Linked DNA regions of Homo sapiens. The protein of the gene in region 1 purifies or fractionates together with the protein of each later gene. This does not show direct contact. Each region holds a gene or a part of one and is shown in the gene's direction. Other genes may lie near its edges. The genes, in order: PGBD1, MYCBP2, ZKSCAN8 and ZNF174.

Evidence for each region.
Region 2: the proteins of PGBD1 (region 1) and MYCBP2 purify together in Homo sapiens (affinity purification with mass spectrometry; 2 studies listed by BioGRID and IntAct, with this or other methods). This does not show direct contact.
Region 3: the proteins of PGBD1 (region 1) and ZKSCAN8 purify together in Homo sapiens (affinity purification with mass spectrometry; 2 studies listed by BioGRID and IntAct, with this or other methods). This does not show direct contact.
Region 4: the proteins of PGBD1 (region 1) and ZNF174 purify together in Homo sapiens (affinity purification with mass spectrometry; 2 studies listed by BioGRID and IntAct, with this or other methods). This does not show direct contact.

Annotation. Positions count from the first base shown.
Region 1 is NC_000006.12:28,284,556-28,291,587, forward strand, and holds part of PGBD1 (piggyBac transposable element-derived protein 1), read left to right. Parts: intron 1-995; coding exon 996-1,152; intron 1,153-2,524; coding exon 2,525-2,613; intron 2,614-7,032.
Region 2 is NC_000013.11:77,093,080-77,100,111, reverse strand, and holds part of MYCBP2 (E3 ubiquitin-protein ligase MYCBP2), read left to right. Parts: intron 1-1,098; coding exon 1,099-2,742; intron 2,743-3,630; coding exon 3,631-3,800; intron 3,801-4,509; coding exon 4,510-4,754; intron 4,755-6,779; coding exon 6,780-6,947; intron 6,948-7,032. UniProt on the Homo sapiens protein: Atypical E3 ubiquitin-protein ligase which specifically mediates ubiquitination of threonine and serine residues on target proteins, instead of ubiquitinating lysine residues.
Region 3 is NC_000006.12:28,137,500-28,144,884, forward strand, and holds the start of ZKSCAN8 (zinc finger protein with KRAB and SCAN domains 8), read left to right. Parts: upstream 1-4,383; 5' UTR 4,384-4,530; intron 4,531-4,711; exon of another isoform or gene 4,712-4,764; intron 4,765-6,831; exon of another isoform or gene 6,832-6,925; intron 6,926-7,385. UniProt on the Homo sapiens protein: May be involved in transcriptional regulation.
Region 4 is NC_000016.10:3,404,215-3,409,896, forward strand, and holds the end of ZNF174 (zinc finger protein 174), read left to right. Parts: intron 1-211; coding exon 212-434; coding exon of another isoform or gene 435-559; exon of another isoform or gene 560-694; coding exon of another isoform or gene 695-774; exon of another isoform or gene 775-1,827; intron 1,828-4,106; coding exon 4,107-4,705; 3' UTR 4,706-5,150; downstream 5,151-5,682. UniProt on the Homo sapiens protein: Transcriptional repressor.

The DNA of each region.
Region 1 (7,032 bases):
AGTGCAGTGGTACGATCATAGCATCATTGCAGCCTTGAACTGCAATGGTGGAAGGCTCAAGCAATCCTCCCACCTCAGGCTCCTGAGTAGATGGGACTACAGGTGCATGCCACCATGCCTGGCTAATTTATTTTTAATTTTTTGTAGCGGGGGTGGGGTCTCACTATATTGCCCAGGCTGATCTTGAACTCCTGGCCTCAAGTGATCATGCTGCCTTGGCCTCCCAAAGTGTTGGGATTACAGGCATGAGCCACTGCACCTGGCTATTCGGTGTGTATTTCTGAAGAGTGAGGATATTCTCTTGTATCACAAGAATACAAAAATCAAGTTTAGGGAAATTAAACTTACGATACTATCATATAACCTTAGTCCTTATTCATATTTTGCCATGTTATCCTAATAATGTTCTTTATGATAATTTTCCTGTGATTCAGGATACAAGCCAGCATCACATATTGCACTTAGTTGCCATATCTCTAGTCTGTGAATCTGGAGTAGCTGCTGTCTTTGTCATGACGTTGTTATTTTTGAAGAGTACAGCTAGTTTTTTTGGAGACTATCCCTCAATTTGAGTTTGTCCTATATTTTCTCATGATTCAGGCTGCACATTTTGGCTAGAATACCACAGAGGTAATGTTGTGTTCTCAGTGCGTTACTTCAGGAGGTGCGTAGTGATGATTTGTCCCATTACTGATGAGGTTATGGTGGTACCTGTCAATTTTCTCCACTAGAAAGTTACCATTTTCCCCTTTGTAATTACTAAGTAATCTGTGGGAGACATTTTGAGGTGGTGTACATATCCTGTTCCTCATTAAATTTTCACCAGCTAGTTTAAACATCCACTTGTTTGTTGTTTTTGTTTTTCTGGGCTGGGATCCTTTGCCTGTCTTTTCTGCCTTGTTTGCTGCTGTATCCCCAGCATGTAGAACAGTGCCAGGCTCTTAGCATGCAGTCCATATATGCATGCCCTTTCAAAATAAATCTTTTGTTTCCAGGCCTCTGTCTATATTCAGGGACAGGACATGCACCCAATGGTGGCAGAATATCAAGGAGTCTCTTTGGAGTGTCAGAGCCTCCAGCTCCTGCCTGGGATAACCACCCTGAAGTGTGAACCTCCACAGCGTCCTCAAGGGAACCCCCAAGAAGTGAGTGGTGAGTGCTCGAGTGAGTTTAGTGAGGACGCTGGGAGCTGGCCACTGACACTTGCACAGCCTTCTTGACCTCAAGTTTGTATACATTGTGAAATGATTACCACAAGCTAACTTACATATCTCACAGTTACCTTTTATGTGTCTGTGGTAAGAATTCCTAAGATCTACTCTCATGAAATTTCAAGTATACAATATATTATTATTACTAACTATAGTCAGCATTCTGTACGTAGGTCTTCAGAGCTTATTCATCTTATAACTGCAAGTTTATACCCTGTGACCAACATCAAGTTTTATTTTTTTGTCTAACCCTGTATCTGAACAAACTTGTAAAGACCTGCTTTATTTTACACTGTGCATTTTAAGCTGGTTTATTTAGTATGTATGTGTTGTGGACAAGTACATATAATAGTAAAAGTGAATCGGGGCAAGGCTGTTTTTTTCCAGCAAACTTTATTCCTTCTAGAAATGCAACAACAGCAATAAAAACATTCCATAGTGATCCATTATGGAAGCAAAGAAAAGCAGAGCAAAGAAAAGTGATGTTCTGTTTTATATTTTTGGGTTAGAATTACCACATGTGCTCTTCATTTGATAATTTTGTACTCTGCCATCTGCCAACTGCCAACTTTGTGACCTAGGCAAGTCATTTAATAGGTTATTCAGTTAATCAACAATTATCTGTTTGATCTCTGTGTGTACTCTGCACTCAGCTGTGATTCTTCTGAATGTGCCTAGGATTTTGGAGGCAATAATTTGGACCTTCTTGATTATTTTGAGGATTGGAAATAATCTTTTAAAGTAACAGCACAGTGGCTGGCCTTGTGCAGTCATCATCACCATTTTGATTATTGTTGGTTCTTTGGGATCAGTACCTCCTAACAGTTTTTCTAGTTCATGGCTAACATCTCTTCTCTATTTTTTTAAATATCTTTATTTTCCTGTCTCTCTCTCCATCTTCCTTTCTTCTGCTTTCCTGTTTCCCCTCAGTCTCATCTCTCTACTCTCTACATCCTTTCTTTTGCCTCTGTGTTCTCTCCTTGATCCTTCCTTTATCACCAGCTTCTTCCTCCCCTTTATTTTTGTCTATGATTTTTATTTTTTCTTTATGTGAAAGTGCATGACTGTAAAGCACCTTATGAGTTCATAAATCCCACTCCATTTTTTGGGTGAGAGACCCTAAAGTTGTAGAATTTTAGAATTTCTGACAGAATGAAAGCAGTTGTGATGCTCTTTCTCACACTGTAAAATCTACGTCTTAGTTCTTGAATGTTTAACAAACATAACATTTGGGGGAAAAGGCTGGGTCTCCAAAAAGGGTACCCTAAAGGCCATCATGTCTCATTTAGGACTCTTGCCCTCTCTCTCTGCAGGGCCTGTTCCCCACGGATCAGCTCATCTCCAGGAAAAAAACCCCAGAGACAAGGCTGTAGTGCCTGTGTTTAACCCAGTCAGGTCCCAGGTAAGTAGGATGCCCAAGCTTGTAGGAATATCAGTAGTGGTCTTTCTCCCTCATTCCATGTTCCTTGCCCTTCTCTTGGCTCACACTCATCATCGTGAGAGCCATTCAGGTGGCATAGTCCCTCTGCCTTCACCTTGTCACAGAATATCACAAAGTGTGTTGCATCATTCGAGGAGCTTGTATTGATTATATGCCATTGCCTCATTTCATTGTTCAGGAGGCACGTCCAAATCTCAAGGCATGGGAGTGAGGGGTGGAGTGAGGCTCCTGGTTTCAGAAAGTGCTCCACTCATTTGATGTTGAGTAACTGATATTTTCTCCTTTGAAGTCTCTGGTTTATCTCCCCAGCTTTAGAATAAGGGCCCTTTCTCACACTACTTTATATTCAGCATGTATGCAATTAATGCTTGGTGATAATAATGGAAATTCTATATATCTAAGGTAATACTTAACATCTTCTTCACAAAATGGACTCTGGTTTTTTTTCTTATTAGTGGTTCATTCATTTTCCTAGTCATTTATTTACAAAAAAAAAATAACTCTCTCATTTAAGTCCTCTTGCATACTGCTGCCACATCAGTTTCCTCAAGACACTTGCTCAGTCCTCTTCTATGGCTTCTAATTAATTTTTAATTCTATCAGACCCAGTGCCTCCTGTTATTAACAAATACTTCCTGATAAGAAGTATCTAGAAAATAAAACCTACTCATGCACATTCTGAAAATCAACATAATTCCCTTAAATGTAATTTAATGGTATAATGTAGAAACAAAAAAGTTATTTATTTTAAAAGTAGTGTTTCAAAATGCAAGTGCTTGATGTGATTATAACTAGGGAAATAACAACGTAGTCAGGTGTTTGCACTGAAATATAATTAGTAAGTTCAAATTAAGGAGGAATAAGAAGACCAGAAGCCCAAGAAAATCAAAGAGCAATGGTATAGGTGGACAGTGAAATGAAACTAGTATTGAGTCAGATAATACAAGACTAGACAGAGAAAGTGGGGCCCTTAATTGAAGTAAGGCTTAGATGTTGTAAATTGAATTATGTCCCTCCAAAAGATATATGAAAATCCTAACCCCACGTACCTGTGAATGTGACCTGATTTGGAAACAGGCTCTGTCTTAGTCCATTTTGTGTTGCTAATAACAGAATTCCTGAGACTGGGTAATTTATTTTAAAAAGAGGTTTATTTAGCTCAAAGTTCTACAACCTGGGAAGTCCAAGATCATCAGCCTATCTGGTTAGGATCTCATGCTGCTTTAGCTCATGGCAGAAAGTGGAATGATGGATAATCAAGTGTGTGCAAGGAGACCACACATTAGAGGCAGCCATCCTTTAAACAGTCTGCTCTTGGAGCTGAGCAAGAGCAAGAATAGAAAGCTTATTCAAAGAAATAACAATAGGCCGGGTGCAGTGGCTCTCAACTGTAATCCCAGAACTTTGGGAGGCCATGGCAGGAGGATTGCTTGAGGCCAGGAGTTTGAGACCAGCCTGAGCAACACAGCAAGACCCTGTATCTATTTAAAAAAAAAGAATAGGCCAGGCGTGGTGGCTCATGCCTGTAATCCCACACTTTGGGAGGCTGAGGTGGGTGGATCACGAGGTCAGGAGTTCGAGACCAGCCTGGCCTACCTGGCAAAACCCCGTCTCTACTAAAAATACAAAAAAAAGGAGCCAGGTGTGGCAGGCACCTGCAATGCCAGCTACTCGGGAGGCTGAGGCAGGAGAATCGCTTGAACCTGGGAGATGGAGGTTGCAGTGAGCCGAGATCATGCCATTACACTCCAGCCTGGGCAACAAGAGCAAGACTCCATCTCAAAAAAATTAAAATAAAATAAATTAAAAATAAATTTTAAAAATAGAGAAATAATAACAAAAATCTTCACAAAACTTGTGAAAGATATAAATGTCCAGGTACAGGAAGATCTGAGAACACTGAACAGAATCATCCCAAATAAGACTACTCCAAGGCATATAATAATCAAACTCTCAACTGTCCAGGAAAAAGAGAGGATCTGAAAAGCAGCAAGAGACAAGAAACAAATAAGGAGCTCCAACTTGTCTGGCAATAGACTTCTCAATGGCAATCATACAGGCCAGGAGAAAGTGGAATGACATTTTCAAAGTACTCCAAGAAAAAAACTGACATTCAAGAATATTGTATCCAGCAGAATTATCTTTCATATATGAAGGAGAAAGTCTTTCCCAAACAAACAAGCTGAGAGAGTACACCACCACCAGACACATCTTACAAGAAATGCTAAAGAATTCTTCAGTCTAAAAGGAAAGAAGACTAATGTGCATAAAGAAAACTTTTGAAGGCATAAAAGTCACTGATAAAATTAAGTACATGGACAAACCCAGAATACTTTATTACTGTAATAGTGACATACAGTATACTCACAACTGTGAAGCCCCAAGACATACCTATCAAAAACAATAATAGGACTGGACACAGTGGCTCATGCCTGTAAACCCAGTTCTTTGGGAGGCTGAAGTGGGAGGATCACTTGAGACAAGGAGTTTGAGACCAGCCCAGGCAACATGGTAAGATCCTGATGCTATACCTGGAGACATGAGACAGAGTGAGACCATATCTTTAAAACAAAACAAGACAAACAATAATGGCTAGCAACCTGTTAAGAGATAGGTAATATAAAGATATAAATTGAGACAACGAAAAGTCAAAATCTAGAGGAATGGAATTAAAGCATATAATTTTTTTCTGTGTGTTTCTGCCTTTGTTTCTACTCTTGTATTTGGGATCTAAGATAAGTTGTTATCTCTTTAAAATAACTTATTATATCTGAAGGTCTTCTTTGTAAGCCTCATGATAACTACAATGCAAAAACCTATAATAAATTCACTAAAAATAGCAACAAAGGAAGGCATACTATAAGAGAAAATCACTTAGCCACAGAGGTTTTTTGTTGTTGTTGTTTGAGATAGGGTCTCACTCTTTCACTCTGGCTGGAGTGCAGTGGTATCATCTCAGCTCACTGCAACCTCTGCCTCCCGAGTTCAAGTGATCCTTCCACCTCAGCCTCCCAAGTAGCTGGGACCACAGGTGTGTGCCACCATGCCTGGGTAATTTTTTGTATTTTTTGTAGACCTGGGTTTTTGCCATGTTGCCCAGGCTGGCTTGAACTTCTGGCCTCAAGCAGTCTGCCCACCTTGACCTCCCAAAGTTCTGGGATTACAGGCGTGAGACACCATGCCCGGCTGTATATAACAATTATAAATACCTATGCATGCAACACCAGAGCTCCCAGGTATATAAGGAAAACATTAATAGATCTAAAAGGAGAGTTAGACTGCAATACAATAATAGTAGGAGATTTTAACACCCCACTCTCAGTAATTGACACATCATCCAGACAGAAAGTCAACAGAGAAACGATGGAATTAAACTACATGCTAGATCTAATAAGCCTAACTGATATTTACTGAACATGTAACCCAACTGCTACAGAATGCACATTCTTTTCATCAGCACGTGGGACATAAGAATAGACCATATCTTAGGCCACAAACAAATCTGAACAAATTTTTAAAAAATATAAATCATATCAAGTATCTTTTCTAATCACAGTGGAATAAAACTAGAAAGCAATAACAAGAAAAACCTTGGAAACTACACAAACGCGTGGAAATTAAATAGCATGCTTCTGAACAACTAATTTGTCAGGGAAGAAATTAAGAAGGAAATGTAAAAATGTCTTGAAACTAATGAAAATAGAAAATGTGACATATCAAAATTTGTGGGATACTGCAAAAGCAGTACTAAGAAGGAAATTTATAGCAATAAACACCTATATCAGAAAAGTAAAAAGACATCAAATGCACAACCTAATGATACACCTCAAGGAACTAGAAAAGCAAGAACAAACCAAACTGAAATTAGTAGAAGGAAACAAATAAAGATTAGAACAGAAATAACTGAAATTGAGACCAAAAAAAAAAAAAAAAAACCCAGAAGAACAATGAAACAAGAAGTTGGATTTTTTTTAAAAGATAAACAAAATCAAGTCTTTAGCTGGACAAACAAAAAAGGAGAAGACCCAAATGAATAAAATCAGAAATGAAAAAGACATAACAGCTGAGACCTCAGAAATACAAAGAAACCATTAGAGACTTATGAACAACTATGACAATAAATTTGAAAACCTGGAAGAAATGGATAAATTCCTAGATGCATGCCAACTACCAAGATTGGACCATGAAAAAATAGAAAACCTCAGCAAACCAATAACAAGTAACGAGATAGAATCTGTAATAAAAAGTCTTCCATCAAAGAAAAGCCCAGGACCTGTTGGCTTCCCTGCTGAATTCTACCAAACATTTAAAAAGAACTAATACCAATCCTATTCAAATTCTTCAAAAAAAAAAAAAAAAATTGAAGAGGAGGGACTACTT
Region 2 (7,032 bases), on another chromosome or scaffold:
ACTTCCAGATAGGTTTATGGATTTTCAGTTTTTTATACCACTTGAAACCCTTCAGTCAGATTGCTTTTCTCCTAACAACTAACTGGTATCACTTGCACTAAGAGTAGAAGTTTTTATTTTAAGGAGGAAAGGTGATGTTGAAGTTTGTACCATTTACTTGGGTCACAGACAGCCTGGCTCTAATGCCTCAAAGAAAAGCATAAAATAGAATGAAGGAGAGACACTGAATGAAGGCAGGGTGCTAAAAACAATTAATGTCCATGCAGAAACATCTAATGCTTTGCCTTAGAAAAGGGAGGTGATTCTTCTTTTCATCCTGTTTTTCTGTCATTCTCCTGACTCCTTGTTTTGAGGGTCCACAGTTCAGACTTTTACCACTCATTCTGAGGATCCACCGTTTCTGTGGTTTCCAAGGGAACACAGGCTCTGAGTTCTAAGCAGCTAAGCTTCCTGAACTTTTGGAGTGTAACCTGTTTATAAATAATTAAATAACAGCTTCAGGGCATTCATGTGCTCATTGTAAACTAGTCTAATCTGATCATAAAACAGAGTGCCTCTTAAGCAACTCTTTGTTAGCCTAATTGTATGCATACACTTAAAAATTATAATTGTGTCTATGCATAAATTCAGTTCTCTAATTCAACAAAACCCATACCGTTGCCCTAAGGATGCGAGGTATCACTCTGCTGGAAATTTAGCTCTACTCTACATTTAAAATACAAGTTTTCACATTAAATAATTTCTTATTCCCCAAAAGATTAATTTCTGTCTCTTTCTAGTCCCTCACTGAATTTAAATTCTAACTAGTTATTGCACTAGGGCAGAGGTTGAGATATCACTGATAGTTCACACTGGATTTGTTCAACCTGTTGTTTTGCGTCCATGAAAATAGTTTTTGGTGGTAATGTTGTGTAATGATGTGTAGAAATTTTATTAGAAATATTTCCCCCTTCTTTCCTTTATTCTTCAAGTATTTTAGTATGTATGACAAACAATATAAATTTTGTAGCTATGTTTTTTTATTTCAGTGTTTAGTGGCTAAATTATCAGTAAGTTATAATTTTATTAATAAGTTTCACTGTAAAATGGACCATACAGGTGATCGAGGAAACATCTCAACATCTTCTAAACCAGCCTCTACATCAGGAAAATCAGAGCTGTCCTCTAAACACAGCAGATCGCTTAAACCTGATGGACGTATGAGCCGGACTACTGCTGATCAGAAGAAGCCAAGGGGCACAGAAAGTTTATCTGCTAGTGAATCCCTCATCTTAAAATCTGATGCTGCAAAGTTGAGGTCAGATTCCCACAGTAGGTCATTATCCCCCAACCATAACACCTTGCAGACATTGAAATCTGATGGGAGGATGCCTTCTAGCTCCAGAGCTGAATCCCCAGGACCAGGTTCTCGGTTGTCATCTCCTAAGCCAAAGACTCTCCCAGCCAATAGGTCTAGCCCATCGGGTGCTAGTTCTCCACGCTCCTCCTCACCACATGATAAAAATCTACCTCAAAAAAGTACTGCTCCTGTTAAGACAAAGCTTGATCCTCCTCGGGAACGTTCTAAATCAGACTCTTACACACTTGATCCAGATACCCTCCGCAAGAAGAAAATGCCCCTCACAGAACCTTTGAGAGGACGGTCAACGTCACCAAAACCAAAATCAGTACCAAAGGATTCTACAGATTCCCCTGGATCTGAAAATAGAGCTCCCTCTCCCCATGTGGTACAGGAAAACCTCCACAGTGAGGTGGTCGAAGTCTGCACCTCAAGTACTTTAAAAACAAATAGTCTAACAGACAGCACCTGCGATGACAGCAGTGAATTTAAGAGTGTGGATGAAGGTTCAAATAAAGTTCATTTTAGCATTGGAAAAGCACCACTGAAAGATGAACAGGAAATGAGAGCATCTCCCAAAATAAGTCGAAAATGTGCTAATAGACACACCAGGCCCAAAAAAGAAAAATCGAGTTTTCTTTTCAAAGGAGATGGATCCAAGCCTTTAGAGCCAGCCAAGCAAGCCATGTCTCCTTCTGTGGCCGAATGTGCCAGAGCTGTGTTTGCTTCCTTCCTCTGGCATGAAGGCATAGTACATGATGCAATGGCTTGTTCTTCTTTCCTAAAGTTTCATCCTGAACTTTCCAAAGAACATGCTCCTATAAGGAGTAGTTTAAATAGCCAACAACCTACAGAGGAAAAAGAAACCAAGTTAAAAAATAGACATTCATTAGAAATATCATCTGCACTGAATATGTTTAATATTGCACCCCATGGACCAGATATATCTAAGATGGGTAGCATCAACAAAAACAAGGTATTGTCTATGCTTAAGGAACCACCTCTGCATGAAAAATGTGAGGATGGGAAAACCGAGACCACTTTTGAAATGTCCATGCATAACACAATGAAGTCTAAGTCTCCTCTTCCCTTAACTTTACAACATTTAGTGGCTTTTTGGGAAGACATCTCTTTGGCTACTATCAAAGCTGCTTCCCAGAATATGATTTTTCCAAGTCCTGGTTCCTGTGCAGTTCTTAAAAAGAAAGAGTGTGAGAAAGAGAATAAGAAGTCCAAAAAGGAAAAAAAGAAAAAAGAAAAGGCAGAAGTTAGGCCCAGGGGTAATTTGTTTGGAGAGATGGCCCAGCTGGCAGTAGGAGGACCAGAGAAAGATACCATCTGTGAACTGTGTGGGGAGTCACATCCATACCCGGTGACCTATCACATGAGACAAGCTCACCCAGGTAAATGATACTGTTGAATGTACGTATAAGTGCTTTTTTCTTTAATGAACCAGATCACTTTATTTGAGCTGTTCTATGAATTTTGTCAAAGGATAGGGAATTTATAGTATCTTAGAATGTCATTTTTAAAGTACATTATCAGTACAGGGTTTTGTGAAAAACAGATAAATTCTAATATTATGATGGCCAGGTCATTTAGTGCTATTTCACTTTCATGTAGCATGTTTTAAAAAATATTATGTGTTACCCAAAGGGTGTGCCATTAATGTGTCTGTCTCACACAGCAGAAACAGTGGCATGCCCATACACACAGGGCATCTCCTTTGATTTTACTATTTTCCTGTTCAGAATTGCAAATTAAATTAGATTAGATTGATTTCTATAGGCTTTTTCCTACGGAAGTGATATTGTTTTATCAGAAGACTGCATTTTCAGTAAATGTAATGATTTCTGTAACATTGACTAATATTCCAAATTCACCTAATACAAATTTGGTTAATTTTTTTCTTTGTCTACATATTATACCTCAAATGTCTTATGAATATGTGATTTCTGAAAATATATCATTGTTATAGAACTTTTATACTTGTATTGTCTAATTTTATTGACATAATTAAGTATATCTAAATATACCTATATTCTATCTCTCTTTTAATATGCCTGATTAGAAACTAAGTATCTCTCATATTTGGGGCATCATTTAATTGATTGCTTTTTGATCAAGTAAGCTATTTTTCTGATATAGTTAATAGCCTGAAAAATAAGATATCTACTTCAGTATTTTGCTTTCTTTGAGAAGGTAAATCTGTCATTAATGTATGAGTAATAAGGATCAAACTATTAAGGACACTTGGAGTGTTAAATATTTATTTTTGGTATTGTTTCAAGGTTGTGGCCGATATGCTGGTGGACAAGGTTACAATAGCATTGGGCATTTTTGTGGAGGATGGGCTGGTAACTGTGGTGATGGTGGCATAGGAGGAAGCACTTGGTATCTGGTATGTGATCGCTGTAGAGAAAAATACCTCCGCGAAAAACAGGCTGCTGCAAGGGAGAAGGTATTTTATTCCATTTGGAGCTATACTTTTAATGATATGGATACACTGTATAAAAATACCTTGTTATAATCTTACTACATCAGATAATTCCACATAGTTGATATTAAAAGATCAGCTTTTATAATGGAAATCATATACAAATTTAATATTTGTACTAAGTCAAATGCTTTTAATTTTAAAAATTAACTATATATTGGAATAACACTAGATAACCTCTGCTACATATGCCTTATTGACAAATATTTGTTGTGTAACTCTTTATTATTAATTGTCTGTTATTCTCTCTATGGAGAGCTTTCCTTTTCACCTTCTTTCTCTTTTCCTCTTTTTTTGGCTCCTTTGTTTTCCTATTCCATATCTACTCTCTCTTTTCTTTATTCACTCTAGTGGCACCTAACTAAAAAATTTCACTGAATACACGCACTGAAATGATTTACTTTTTAAAAAAATGAATTACATTTAGATTTAACTAGTTAGGTGTTAAATTTTTCTGAAGAAGGAAAGGAAGTATAGTTTGTGTTTGATACAAAATTGTCTTGGTCAGCCCAGGATGAATATGAAATGAATGTTGTTTTTTATAATCTTATTATCTTAAAATAGCTTTACAAGTGTTTAATAATTTTTATTGGAAACTCAAAATACTTAGCTTAAGAAACTAAGGATTTTAATGTAAGTCAGAAAAGATTAGTTTGATTTTTTTCTTCGCCAGGTCAAACAATCTAGGAGAAAACCAATGCAAGTCAAGACCCCTCGTGCCTTGCCCACCATGGAAGCTCACCAGGTGATTAAAGCCAATGCACTCTTCCTGCTGTCCCTGAGCAGTGCAGCAGAACCGAGCATTCTGTGTTACCATCCTGCAAAGCCATTCCAATCTCAGTTGCCCAGTGTAAAAGAAGGCATTTCTGAGGATCTTCCTGTGAAAATGCCTTGTCTCTACCTGCAGACATTAGCTAGGTAATAAAATTTTGCTGTTGTTTTTTAATCACCTTTGGATTAACAGCGATTGTTTATTGATATCTAGGGTAGTTCGGTATTTGACCTACACTTTATTAGCTATTGTGTACTATAAACAAACTTCCAGGCATTTATTTTTTGAGTTGCCTTGACTGACATAATGACTTTATGGTAATAGGTATTTAAAAAACTATAAAAATGCTTCATCAATTTGCATTGTATTAATACACAACATGTCTTAGAAAATAAGACTATAGCTATCTTTTACTCTTTGGTAGGCTGACTTCACTCTGTTAGTGCGAAATGCTGAAGTGTAAAGAAAGTGTGTTTCCTTAGCAGTCTTTTATTTCGTAAATTATTCATTCTGTTAGCATTTAAATGAATACCAACTGGGCACCTACCAGCCTTGTGCTAGGCCCTGAATGTATGAATATAACAAAATCCTGGCTTCTATGTACTCATACTCGGATGTCAAGTCAGACATGTTAGTGAAACATTTGAAATGCCATGTGAGGAGTGCTACAATAGAAGTATGTATGTAAGATGCTGTTAGAGCATAAAAGATGGAGAGTATCTGAATCTTCCCCAGGAAATCAGAAAAGGCTTCCCAGAGGGTCTGAGCCTTTAGTAGAGTCTCAAAGGATAAATAGAAATCTGTCAGGCAAGCGACAGGAAGAAAGCGACTCTTGGAAGAATAACCCAGGTGAGTAAAGACACAAATGAAATCTCATTACACATTTCAGGAATCACGGGTTGTTAAAGGACTGGCTACTGGAGGAAATATGTGAAAGCCCGTTCAAAGTGATTGGTTCACCCAAGTAATGTCGGGCTCTGTAGCCCAGGTTAAGATTGCATTTTATCCCATGAGCAGAGGAAACAGTGGAAGAATTTTAAACAGAGAAATACATGAACTGGTTTGCAATTAAAAAATCACTGTGGAATGTGGAAGCTAATGTGGAGACTAGATAAAAGTGCATTACTGGAGATAGAAACCTGTTAGTATTCTGTTTTCATATATTGGACCTCAGTGGTGCAGCCTGTACTTTCACACATCATGCACTGACACTCCAAAAGAGCCTTTCATATACCAAAACCAAATTTTTTTCATCAGCTGACAAATGAAGGTAATCTAGATATTGCCCACTGACATGGCTTGCCGACCAACAGTTCCATTTTGGAAATTGTCCTCTTTGTGTAGCAGAGTTGTATGGTTTTTAAAATTTTGTGCTTACTATTACAATAAAATGAATAAGCAACAAAAATGAAAATATCAGACTAAGTACATTTGAGACTGAGGTGGAAATCATCAGTATGCCAAAATACAATAGATCTTTAGTGTGAATCACACCACTCAGTGGACTTAGGTTAGCAACTATTTGTTCATTTTGAAAAGGAAAGAATCAAATTGTAAAACGTGAAAAATGCTAACACAGCATAATTATAGATTTTTTTCTTTTTAGCTGTCTGGGGAATGGGCACCCCTTCCACCCTGAACCACAGAAAATTTCATATATCTAATATTTTTCAAATATGATCTTATGTATGTTCCTACCCAAAAAAGTAACTGCTTGTATTTCAGTGGTCTGTGCAAGAAATAATAAGCATGAACCAAGGCAGTGATGATAGGGAATGAGAAGAGAGAATGGCTCTGAGAGGAAACCTAATATCATGGGCTTGAAAGATGATGATGATAGAGGGCTAAGCCTACTACAACACTGGAAATATTTTAGCTTAAGCAACTGGATGGTTGGTGGGCTTATTCACCAAAACACTGGAAGATGGAAAAGTTCTCAAAAGGAAAGAAACTGAGTTCAATTTTGGATTTGAAATGTTCGTGGTACCTGGAATGTTGATGAATAAAATTATCAGACTTTTATTTTCACCTACCTACATCTACGATTATTTTAATGCTTTGCCTTTAACTATGATTTACATGTGCTGCTTTTCCTGTTATGAAAGAGATTAAAAATGGAGAGGATCTGTATTGCCATCATGCTTTAAGTTATTGGGTTTGATTTAATGCAGGCATCATCATGAAAATTTTGTGGGCTATCAAGATGACAATCTATTCCAGGATGAAATGAGATATCTACGTTCAACATCTGTACCTGCCCCGTATATATCAGTAACTCCTGATGCAAGTCCTAATGTATTTGAAGAGCCAGAGAGCAATATGAAGTCTATGCCACCAAGGTATTTTAGTTCTCTCCTGTCTGTTGAATAGCTAGTGTTTGGTGGAAGAAAGACTTTGAACTAGAAAAGAGTCCTGTAGAAGTTC
Region 3 (7,385 bases), 150 kb from region 1:
GAAATGAGTGTCCAAAGAGAAATAGGTGCAGAGTGCCGGCACTAGAATTCTTTAAACCTGGATTCAAATTCTGACTCCACCACTCTCCAGTTAGGACTGAGGGCAATTTATTTTTAACTTCTCCAAGCCTCTGTTTACTCGTTTATGTAACTCAGGCTAATAACGTAGTGTCTATTTCATAGGGTGGCTTTGACTATTAAGTGTGAGAGTGCATGTAAGAACAGTCTAAGGGAATTTCCCTGCCTTTCCCCTTGTCTGCTGTCACTCTCATCCGTGTTAGACAAATGGAATTAATTAACCAACTTCCGCTTTTCTGAAGCACGGGTAAAGAGTGAAGTGCAGGACTTGGGTAAAGGAAAAACCAAGAAGGATGCAAAAGATGGATGGTCATTGTGAGATCCACAGAGGTGCTCATCCCAGCACTTTCACCTCACTTGGCATCTGTCACATGGTGGGTGCTTGATAAGTACATGGGTGAATGAGGACCTACCTAAGCAGAAGGAATTATTGAATAAGACTAGAATTGCAGGGAGAGGATGAATCAGATTGATTAGCTACTTGACAAAAAAAGGCAAACCACTCTTCCTGTCAGAAATGTATGGCACATCTGCATATTTCAAGGGCTGCCACTTACTGCAACTGGGAAGGAGATCTCAGAACCGACACCTCAACTATGGAAGCTTTAATCTATTGACAGCAAATGCAACATAGCAAGTAATATAAGACAGAATGTGATCAGTGCAAAATCGAATAATAAAGTCTTGAGAGGGGGTTATTAGAATAATAGACGAGTGTTTAGATTGAGTAGTGAGCAATGAGATAAGTCCTTTGACTTGGGGGTACAGGGGAATTATGACCAGGGGTATGGGATAGGGAGAAGGTCATTCTGGAAGGCAATAAAAGGCAGACAGGACGCTAGTGGTAGAAAAAAAGGAAAACACTTGTTTATCAATGTAAATCAATGGCGGAAGAATTACATATGACATATGCTATTGAGGAATACCTTTCAACCGTTCAAATGACAAAAGGAGTGTCAGAACAATATATATTCCATTTTTGTTGAAAAAATTTGTTTATATAGATATAATTTGTGGGGTATTTGTACAAGAAAAGGATGCACTCCAAACTTAACAGTGATTACCCCATATTGAAAATTGTGAAACTTTTACCCTACTTGCAAGCTAACAATTTAACTTGCCACAGTTTTATGGATACTAACAGAAGACACTGGACTCCTGCGTCAGAGACAGAAGACTTTATTACTTAATAACACAGGCATCATAAGCTTTATATTCCCTTGTTCCCAAAGCTTATGTTCCCAAAGCCCACAGAGGGGCCTAAGCTTGGCATTCCCCTGCTAGGATGGAACAGTGGGTTTGCAACCTAGCAGAGGAATGCCAAGCTTAGGAAGCCCAACCTTTGCTCAGCCTTGCCCCAGAATGAGCCATTATCTTTATTATCCTGGTCAGGAAACAACTGTGATCTAGAAGGAGATACAAACATCCTTGAAAACCTAACCTCAAAGAAAAATCTACCATAAGACTAGGAGTAATTTGAGAAGCCATTAAAGAATTATCTCCCAACATTCTAGGTAAATACTATTTGAGGGTGGAGATGTCAGCTTTTAAGAATTTTATATAATATTAATCTTTATCATGTTTCATTTATTTTTAAAAATACAAAAAATAAAAGGCAAGCATAGAAGTTTAAATTTTACTTAGAGATAAGGAACCACTCAGGGTCAGTGATTGGAAGAATGATAATGATATTTAAGGACCACGTCTTGTATAGTTAGGAAGGCTATCTCAAGGCTGTTGCAGTCACATAGGTGTGAAGTAATTAGAACTGAGGATGGTGGTTATATTAATGGAGAAAAGTAACACTTCAAAGGAGAAATCTGGCTCTGATAATTTCTCCTTTATCTCCATGTTTCATTGAGTAAACTAAGGAAGCCTCTCAAGCCTGAATAACTTAGAAATTGGCGATATTATCAACCATTCTAACGGATATGTGGTGGTAACTCATTGAGGTTTTAACTTTGCATTTCCCTGATGAATAATGGTTACTTTTTAGTGTGCATACTGGCCATTCTTTTATCTTTTGTAAAGAAAGTGTTTAAATCTTTTGCCTATTGGTGTTGAATTATCTTATTCATTAAATTGTGAGAGTTCTTTATATATTCTGGATAGTTCTTTGTCAGATAGATGTATTACAAATATTTTTCAGTGTGTAGCTTTTTCTTCACTTTCTTAATGGTGCTTTTTTTGAGAAGATTTAAATTTTGATGAGAATTTAAGTTTAAAATTTTGAAGTCAAATTTATCAGTTTTATCTATTACAATCAGTGTCTGTGTGTCCAGTTTGAGAAAACTACCTATGGCATGACGCTATTTTACTTCCTATGTGTACACAACTTTGTACATAGTATGTGCAGTCATAGTTGTGTGCACATTGAATTTGTACAACTACATATGTGCACAACTTCAGACTTAAAAAAAATTTATTTGTTTATTTATGTTGAGACAGGGTCTTGCTCTATTGCCCAGGCTGGAGTGCAATGGCAGGATCTCAGCTCACTGCAGCTTCTGCCTCCCAGGCTCATGCGATTCTCCCGCCTCAGCCTCTGGAGTAGCTGGGACTACAGGAGCCCACTACCATGCCTGGCTAATTTTTGTATTTTTTGCAGAGATGGGTTTTTGCCATGTTGGCCAGGCTGGTCTCAAACTCCTGAGCTCAGGTGATCCTCCCGCGGCTTCACAAAGTGCTGGGATTACAGGCATGAGCCACCGCGCTCAGCCAAAAAAGTTACTTTTAAAATGTGAAAAAAGAAACTGAAAGTAGAGTTCTAGTCTGTCACCAGTTACTTCCAGTTACCATCCCAGGTGGAAAGCAACAGCTGTGAAATAAAAAGCAAAAATAATTACTTTGAAGGAGTCCAGAAGCACTGTAGCTTCCCAGTGTTTACTATTATTTACTTGTTTTCATGTGATAATTAGATGACAAAACCCTTAAATCAAAACGACTTTGTCAGTACGCAAAATATTGGGGAGTTAGTAATTGGGAAGGGATAGAAATGTTGGTGGTGGCTACCAGCAGGAGCAGATAAAGAGGGAAATTAAGGTGAAAATTGGAGGAGCCCTGAGAACTCAATAATAGGTGGTTGGGAAAGGTGCTGAAGGAAATAAATACATGAGACTTAAACAACAAAAAATAACACTTGCCACAACCTCCACCCCTGAAATCCTATTAGTCTCAAAAGTTAAAAAGCTCTAATGCAACAGGTCTGTAAAGAATGAACACAGGGCCAGGGTGGTGTCTCATGCCTGTAATCCGAGGACTTTGGGAGACTGAGGCAGGAGGATCACTTGAGCCCAGGAGTTCAAGACCAGCCTGGGCAACATAGTGAGACCCCCGCCCCGCCCCGCCACCCCGTTTCTACAAATTTTCTTTTTTAAGCTGAGGGTGGTGCACACCTGTAGTCCCAGCTACTTGGGGGGCTAAGGTGGGAAGACTGCTTGAGCCCAGAAGGTTGAGTCTGCCGTGAGCTATGATCACACCACTACACTCTGCAATAGAGACCCTGTCTCAAAAAAAAAAAAAAAAGGCAAAAAAAGAAAAAAAGACTAACAAAGAAAGAATGAACATAGATTTGTTCCCCATATCTTGTGGTATTAAACCTAGGGTCTACTCTTCAAGCTTACATCATAGGTTTAGCATTAAAACAGCTAAGCAGCAAAGCAGATGCTGTAAGCGATAGAAATTCATTAAGATAGGAAAGAGTGGGAAATATGTAAAGATCCAAAAAGAATATATATTTAATTACGATTTTTTTGAATACTTAATAAAATATGCTATTCCTAAGTGCCATGCCATAGGGATTTCACAAAACTATGAACTGTGATTAGCAGGAATTCCTCATGAAGTTTGTACTCTATGTGAGAGGTCTGGATATGTTTATGAATCGAGAACAGTAAAGTACAGGGTATGTAACGGAGCCAAACGCGAATCCAGTTGGAATCCTAAGGATCCATGAAGTGCTCCCTCCTCCAACACTTTCCCAGCCTCCTATTCACAGCTCCAGCCTCCCCACGTCCGATATCTACCCCCAGGGGACCGTTACTATTGACAGCGAGCGCGCGGAGCTGCATGGGCACACAAGGCGGAGGGGACACCAAGGTCCGTTATTCCCCAGCACGTTCACTGCCCCAGCGACAGCGCAAGCCTGAGGCACGCAGACGCGGGAGGAACCCGAGGCACAGCACACAGCAGGTGAGGGGCGTGGTACTCCGGTACCCTCAGTCGGCCGACCATAGAGCTTGTAGACCTCCAGGACTCCTAGAGAGCTTCCGGAAGTGCCTTTGGGGCAAGATGCGTGCTGGCCGGTGTTGTGCCTCCGCAGATTTAGAAGTTAGTGGCCGGAGGGGCCTGGTCCGAGTACAGCTTTCATCGCCTTTACTCCCCGACCTTCCTTCGAGTCTGTTTATCCGTTGCAGCCTCCCTTCCCCACGACGGGGCGCCTCTGCAACTCACAGTGAGTACGGTCGGGCTCTGGGCCGGAGGAAAGTGGGTGCTTTGTGGCTGGTCCAGGCCGCAGCTGAGGACTGGCCTGAGGGGTCCGGAGAGGGGCCTGTGCGGTGTTCGGCGCCGCGGACCGATTCTGACGCCTTAGTTGCTGTTGCAGGCAGAGTACGTCCCCACGAATTGCCCTTGAACTTTTTGCGAGGGAACCTTTTATGAAGCTTTCTTCATAGATAATCGTGTTGTGGTATGTTTTTGTAGTCGATCTTGTTTATCTTAAAATGGGGAACGCCCCCCCCATGTTATTTTTTATCCAACTATTTCCAGAGTCTGAATTGTTTTCACTTAGCGCTCTTTTGCGTTTAGGTCACAACAAAATTCTCAGTTTTTAAAAAAGACATATTTTGCTTTTGGAAGCCCCGTTTATCCATGGAAACCAATTTTTGCTGTTACTCTTCTTTCTTTAGTGTATTCAGAAACTGGTGGTGTGTTGACTAGATAATTGTACGAAAGTTTTTTTTTTTTTTTAATTTCAGGGTAATTCAGAATTCAACATTATCAGAATGCCTATTTCATTTGTTAAAGCAAACTGAAGTTAGCCAACGAGGAACTCTGGGAGGGCCCCATTTCCAAAACTCTGGTTAGTCATGAGTAATTTTTGTCAGGCTACTTTGACTGCCACCACCACCTTTAAAAACATATTTCTGTTGTTTGTTAGTTCCGTTGAGTATATTTACGTAGCAATCATTGTTTTAGCAAATACATACATGTTTTGAATTTCTGTTGTTTAAATGTAAAATGTGATAGATGTTAATTAAAACTTTCAGCTAATGCAATTTGAGATAACAAAGCATAGTATTGGCTTCACCTACTTTTTCTTGGATTTTAAATCCTGGAAAATGTCTTTTTTGTTTTGTTTTCAGTTCCCAAACATTTCTCAAATTAGACATAGTCTGAAGGAAGAATACATTCCTTCCACAACTATTGAAAAAATAATACTGTTAAAATTGAGTTGTGCCTTCAGCATCTCACAGGATTACAGTATTTAAAATCCAGAGGAAGCTTTAAAGATTGCCTTTTAAACTCATGTAAACTTGACTAGGTGTTCTTTAAGGAGACTATGTAAAAATCAGTCTGTATCCACAAAGTGCTCACCAACTTAATACAGACATGTACGCACAAAACTGAGAGGAAGGTACATACTGGAGTAATTTTGCACTCAGTTATTTATAGGTTGTAATTCTCAAAAACCAGCTGATCAGAGAGGGAAGAGACTTAAAAAAATGGAAAATTAGCCACTAAATAGAATAATCAAGATGAGCAATGGGCAAGACCTGTTGGCTGATTTGGTATAAAAAATGAACAAACCTGATAATTAGCTGGTTTTCATCAGTGTTGTTATTGAGACTTTTTAATACCACATCAACAATATAAAGTTCTTGAATGCTGCGCACTTCACATTAAAATATTTTATAGCCTCCTGTACTGGTAAGTAGTGGGATTGCACCTGTGAATAGACTCTGCACTCAAGCCTGAGCAACATAGTGAGACCCTGTCCCTAAATAATAATAATAATATTTTATAGCCATTATGGATGAGGATTGCTCAGTAATAGATGGCCAGTTGTTCAGTAGTTAAAAATGAACCTTGGCTTTAAGGAAATTTATAAGAAAACATGGTAAGACTACCACTATATAACATCACATTCTAAACAGAATTTATGTCCCATGTATTGACCTTTAAGTTTTTAACATTAAACCATAAGTAGCTATTTTAAGAAAATTTAAGAGTTTGTTTTGATTTGAAAAATTAAATTATTTTAAAATTAGCTAAGACCATTTTAAAATAAATTATCTTAAAATTATAGATAATTTATTCAAACAAAAACAAATTGTCAAAACCAAATTGATTACCCTTTCTCAACAAAATCTCAGCATCTTCCTCAAATTCACTCTTCCCCCAAATCTCACTATTCTAGCAAATTCCTCCACTTTCCTGTAAAGTCATAATCAATGAACTATACCCCCAATGTTAATTGATATATTTAACCATATCTTTTGCTCCTTGGTTCTTCTGATCTGTAGTTTACTCTCCACCCTGTTGTTCCCGGCCTTGTCTAACTTGAAAAATAATTTTCAAATTCCCTTTCTTTTCTGTACACACTCTCTATGTAGGATTTGTTTGTATGTTTGTTTGTTTTTAACCTTCCTGGCATTCTTGGATGGCCTTTGAGTCTGTGAACTCTGCCGAAATTGAGTATACAATTTTGTATCTGTGGACATTTTGCTGGAAAGAAGTTCTGTGTTTTCTTTAGGTTGAAGAGTCTATAAACCAACCCCCCTCGCCCCGTGCCACAACTCCAAAAACTGAAAAGATAAGCACTGCCTTGATGATCCGTATGGGGAACTGTATGTACAGTAATCTGATTTTTTTCCTAAGTACCTATCTCTTCTTTGTGGACTATAGGTCTCTGGTTTTATCTTGATGTTAGCATCTCATGACAACTGGTTTAGGGTATGCTACCTTTACTTACACTCTTCTTCATTCTCTACAGTATCTTTGAAATACAAAGATAATGGTCACCTCTGTCAACAAACATTTGCAATAAGGCCATGGCCACATTCTCACAATGTGATAAGTCCTATATTTGGACCATGTTAAAAATGCTTTGGTAGGAATGACAAATGGCAGGGGGATGACAGAGAAGAACTCATGAAAAAGGTAATAGATAAATTAGAGTTAAGAGTTGAATGATTTTAGGCCGGGCACAGTGGCTTACGCCTGTAATCCCAGCACTTTGGGAGGCCGAGGCGGGCAGATCACGAGGTCAGGAGATCGAGACCATCCTGGCTAACACAGTGAAACCCC
Region 4 (5,682 bases), on another chromosome or scaffold:
AAGCCACTCGGCTGATTTGTAGCATCCTCATTCCTGTCATTCTTCACGTTCTCCCCTTTACTTCCTTTGAGGGTTTCAGTGGTTTCTATGAAAGTTGACCTCTAGATGGTTATCAGCAATTCCCAAGGTAAACGGGTCATTATACAACAGTGAGAGATCAAGCTTCCCTCAGTCCTGATGGATGGAATTAATGGATGGGGCTTGTTCCTAGGTGGCCGTTTGTATGCAGGGGCAAAAGGTGCTCTTGGAGAAAACTGGATCTCAGCTTGGAGAACAGGAACTGCCAGACTTTCAACCGCAGACTCCTAGGAGAGATCTCAGGGAGAGCTCTCCAGCAGAGCCTTCCCAGGCAGGAGCTTATGACCGGCTGAGCCCCCATCATTGGGAGAAATCCCCACTCCTCCAAGAACCAACCCCCAAATTGGCTGGGACAGGTAAACACTCTGCCTTTTCTCTCCCTCTCATCAGCCCTTTATCTCCATCAATGTATCTCATGGTTCTGCAAAGGCATAGACCACATGTGTGTGTTTTTTTAAATGTTATATATAATAGTAGATGATTATTCACTAAACAAATTTCACTAATTAGGATGGTGGTGATACTACAAGTAAGTATGTTTTTATCGTTTTCTGTTAATGAAAATTTAAGAATCCAGTGCATGACAGGGTTGTACCTACTTTTCTGTCCGTTTCAGAACTTCTTATAGAAAAGACAGATCCAAATATGGCCACAGATGAACTTCCATGCAAGCTATGGCTGAGTTTCATTGCTTAAAATGCTCCTCTGTTTAGAGGGGCCTGGTAGAAATAAAAACCCACCCTATATCTTATATCTTTGTCCTCCTCTGTGATGTTGCTTGTACTTTAGATCCTCAAATCTATTTCCCTTTCTCTGGTGTGATACTTGTGTAACTGCTGGCCTTGTTCTACACAGTCCTGTGATCTCTAAGCCTGAATGACAGTGACATTTTGGCCAAGCCTGGTGATGTGAATACAAGATACAGTGAGCACGTTAGGGAGGAGGGTTACAAGACGACAAAAATCCTCAGTTTCTTAATATTTGCTACATCCAATGAGGTACTTCGTGTTTTAGTCTGTTCAGGCTGCTAATATAAAATGCTAGAGACTAGGTAGTTTATAAACAACAGGAGTTTATTTCTCACAGTTCTAGAGGCTAGGAAGTCTGAGTTCAAGGTGCCAGCATGGTTGGGTTCCAGTGAGGCCCCTCTTCCAGGTCACAGACTGCCTACTTCTCAGTCCTCATGTGGCAGAAGGGGAAGACAGGCTCCCGTGGGGCTCTTTCATGAAGGCACTAATCCCATTCCAGTGAGGGCAGCACCCTCATGACCTAATCACCTCCCAAAGGCCCCATGTCCTAACACTATTACCTTGGGAGTTAGAATTTCATATGAATTTGGAGGAACATAAACATTTAGCCCCTGGCAACCACAGTCTACTTTTTGTCTCTAGAATTGCTTATTCTGAACATTTTATACAAATGGAATCACACAGGCCGGGCACAGTGGCTCACGCCTGTAATCCCAGCACTTTGGGAGGCCAAGGCAGGCGGATCACTTAGGCTCAGGAGTTCGAGACCAGCCTGGGCAACATGGCGAAATCCTGTCTCTACAAAAAATGCAAAAATTAGCGGGGCATGGTGCTGCACACCTGTAATCCCAGCTGCTTGGGGGAGCTGAGGCAGGAGGATCACTTCAACCTGGGAGGTCGAGGCTGCAGTGAACTGAGATCGTGCCACTGCACTCTAGCCTATGTGACAAAGTAAGACCCTGTCTCAAAAATAAATAAATAAATAAATTGAATCACACAATATGTGGTCTTTTGTGTGTGGCTTCTTTCACTGAGCATGTTTTCAAGTTTTATCCATGCTGTAGCATCAATCAGTGCTTCATTCCTTTTCTGTGGCTGAATAATAGGCATTGTACGGATATATTACATGTTGGTTTTCTGTTCATGTTGGTTCATCTGTTCATAGATTTTTGGGTTGTTTCTACTTTTTGGTTATTATGAAGAATGCTGCTATAAATGTGTGTTTTTGTGTAGACATGTTTTCATTTCTCTTGAGTATATACCTAGGAGTGGAATTACCATATGCTAGGTCATGTGGTAATTCCATGTTTAACTTATGAGGAACTACCAGACTGTTTTCCAAAGCAGCTACACCATTTTACATCCCCACCAATACTGTGTGAGGATTCCGATTTCTCCACATTCTTGCTAGCACTTGTTATTGTCTTATACCCATCCTATTCGGTGAGAAATTTTGATTTGAGGTTTTGATTTACATTTCCCTAGTGACTAATGGTGTTGAACATCTTTTCATGTGCTTATTATCCAGTTACATATCTTGTGTGGAAAAATATCTGTTCAGATCCTTTGGTCATTTTTAAATTAGGTTATTTGTCTTTATTTTTTATAAGAGTCCTTTATGTATTCTAGATACTAGACCCTTATGTGTAATTTGCAAATCTTTTCTCTCATTTTGTGGGTTGTCTCACTTTCTTGACAGTGTCCTTTGACGCACACGTTTTTCATTTTGCTGCAGTCTAATTTATCTATTTTTTTCTTTCTTTATGCTTTGGTGTCATATGTAAAATAGCACTGCCTAATCCAAGGGCACAAATATGTACAGCTATGGTTTCTTCAAGGAGACATAGATTTAGCTCTTACTTTCAGCTATTTGGTCCATTTTAAGTTTATTTTTTCCCCATACATAAACAAGTCAATTTTTATATAGGTTTTGAGGTAGGGGTCTGTCAATCTGATCAGGGGTCTGTCTTAATCTGATCAGGCTCTTACAACAAATTGCCTTAGACTAGGTAATTTATAAACAACAGAAATTTGTTGCTCATAGTTCCTGGATACTGGGAAGTTCAAGATCAAGGTGCCAGCAGATTTGGTGTCTGGCGAGGGCCCATTCCTCATAAATGGTGCCTGCTATGAGTCCCCACATGGTAGTCTCTTGGGTTTCTTTTATAAGGACACTAATCCCATTTATGAGGACCCCACCCTCATAACCTAATCACCTCCCAGATGCCCCACCTCCCAAGACCACTGCACTGGGGACTGTCAATATATGTGTGTCAGGGGACAGGGGGGATAAACATTCAGACCATAGCAGGGTCCAACTTCATTCTCTTGTATGTGGAAATCCAGTAGTCCTAGAATCCTTTATGAAAAAGACTATTCTTTTCCCATTGAATTGTCTTGTCAAAAAGCAATTGACCCTGATTGTATAGGCTGATTATTTACATTTGAATTTAAATGAATTAAAATTAAAAAAAAATTTAAAATTAAGTTCCTTAGTCACAGTAGTCACATTTCAAGTACCCAGTAGCCACATAGTCACATGTGGCTAGTGGCTGCCATATTGAACAACGTGCATGTGCCTGTGCATGCACGTGTGCACACACACATTTTCCACATCACAAGGGATCCTTCTCCAGATCCTGTGATTTCCCATAGGCCGTTCCAGCTCATCTCCATCCAGACTGTCAATCCTTCTGTAATTAGGATACATGGCTAAGCCCTGATTCCAGTTTCTGAACTCATATACTGTCAAATTTGTAATGAAAGAAAACATCACAGTCTCTGAACTTACCATCTTTTGAAGAGAAGGTGGTTGTCAATTAGTGTTTACTAAGTGAGGGGTATTTGTTGAAATAGCTCAGGCATTGGACTACAGCAGTAAAATTTGCAATGTTGAGATTTCACCTCTCTTCCTTCTTCATTAGATACCCAATTCTGATGGGTTTGCTTTTCCCTGTTCTTCATTTCCTAAACCTTTCCCTAAAGGGAGAAAGGAAGAAGGAGGATGGAGAACTTGGTTCCTAAATTTAATATAAATCACAGTCACCCCAGGAGCCTGCTAACTGTGCAGATTATCAGGCCCAACCCCCCGAGATTCTGACCCAGCAGCTCTGGGGGAAGGGTGAAGAGCCTGCTTGTTTAACAAGTGCTCCAGATGAGTCTAATGCAAGTTGCCAGCGGAGGGCCACCCTTTGAGAAACCTCTCAGAGTATTTCATAACTCTTGCTGAAGTTATTTCTTCCAAGTGCAGAAAATGAAGCATTTTCTTTCTAATTATAGAGGCCCCCAGAATGAGAAGTGACAACAAGGAAAATCCACAACAGGAAGGGGCTAAAGGAGCAAAGCCATGTGCAGTGTCAGCTGGCAGATCCAAAGGGAATGGTCTGCAGAATCCTGAACCAAGAGGGGCAAATATGAGTGAACCTCGGTTGTCACGGAGGCAGGTCAGCTCCCCAAATGCTCAAAAGCCATTTGCTCACTACCAGAGACATTGCAGGGTGGAATACATCAGCAGCCCCCTAAAAAGCCACCCACTGAGAGAGCTAAAGAAAAGCAAAGGAGGTAAACGGAGTCTGAGCAACCGTTTGCAACATCTTGGTCACCAGCCCACCCGCTCAGCAAAGAAACCCTACAAATGTGATGACTGTGGGAAAAGCTTCACGTGGAATTCAGAGCTGAAGAGACACAAGAGAGTCCACACAGGAGAGAGACCCTACACGTGCGGAGAGTGTGGAAACTGCTTTGGGCGGCAGTCAACCCTGAAGCTGCACCAGAGGATCCACACTGGAGAGAAGCCATACCAGTGTGGCCAGTGTGGGAAAAGCTTTCGCCAGAGCTCAAACCTTCACCAGCATCACCGACTTCACCATGGGGACTAAAAGGAGCACTCCATGCTTTAGATTCACACGGAAGGTGTTTGTGTTTCTCCTCCCCCTTACTTGCATGTAAATCACAAAAACTGTGTGACTTACAAGGAAAGCACGAGGCCCTTGAGGAATGATGATGCACATTCTGCTGTGAGGAGGCCCAGAAAAGGCCAACCAGGGCCCAACCGTGCATGATGACAGGGTGAAGAGAAGGCAGGTCTGGGCACTGGGGCAAAGAGAACTTAAGTCTCTGCAGAGAGCAAGGAGTAACTACTGAGAGAGAATCAGGACAATCCTGCAGGTGGCCCGCTTACTGTTAAATCGTCCCTCTGTTGCTTTATCCTCTAAAATATGTTAAGGGATAAATTCTATATATATAGTTATGCATTTGCTGTCATACCAGACAATTTTTTATCATGAGCACACTTCTTTAATAAAGATGAGTGATCTACCAGAATTTCAAGGCAAAGTTAATTGGAAAATAGATCCCTCATATTCTTTCTGTAATTACTAGCTGTTTATAGCAAAGGATGAATTAAATGAGAATATGCACGTTTGTGCGAGAAGAGTTTCCAAGTAGTTAGATGGTGCTTTTACAAAAAGAAAAGAAAATTACATTTGAGGGATCTTTTTTGTATCAAAGCACCTTTTTTTTTTCCTTTTTATTTTTTGAGACAGGGTCTCGCTATGTTGCCCAGGCTGGTCTCGAACTCCTGGGCTCAAGCAATGCTCCTGCCTTGGCATCCCAAAGTGCTGGGATTGCAAGTGTGAACCACCGTGCCTGTTCTCAAAGCACCTTTGATTGAGAAAAAAAAAATCTACACAGTTGCTGCAACCCCAGCCTAACACATAAGGAAAAGCTACAGTGAGAAGCAAGTAGTGGACAAAGAGTACTAAGGAGATATAAAAGGGAATTCTTCCCACTCTCCTTTCTCACTTAGCCCATTAGCTTTAAGAATAACAAAATGCAATGGGGGTACAGTGGCTCA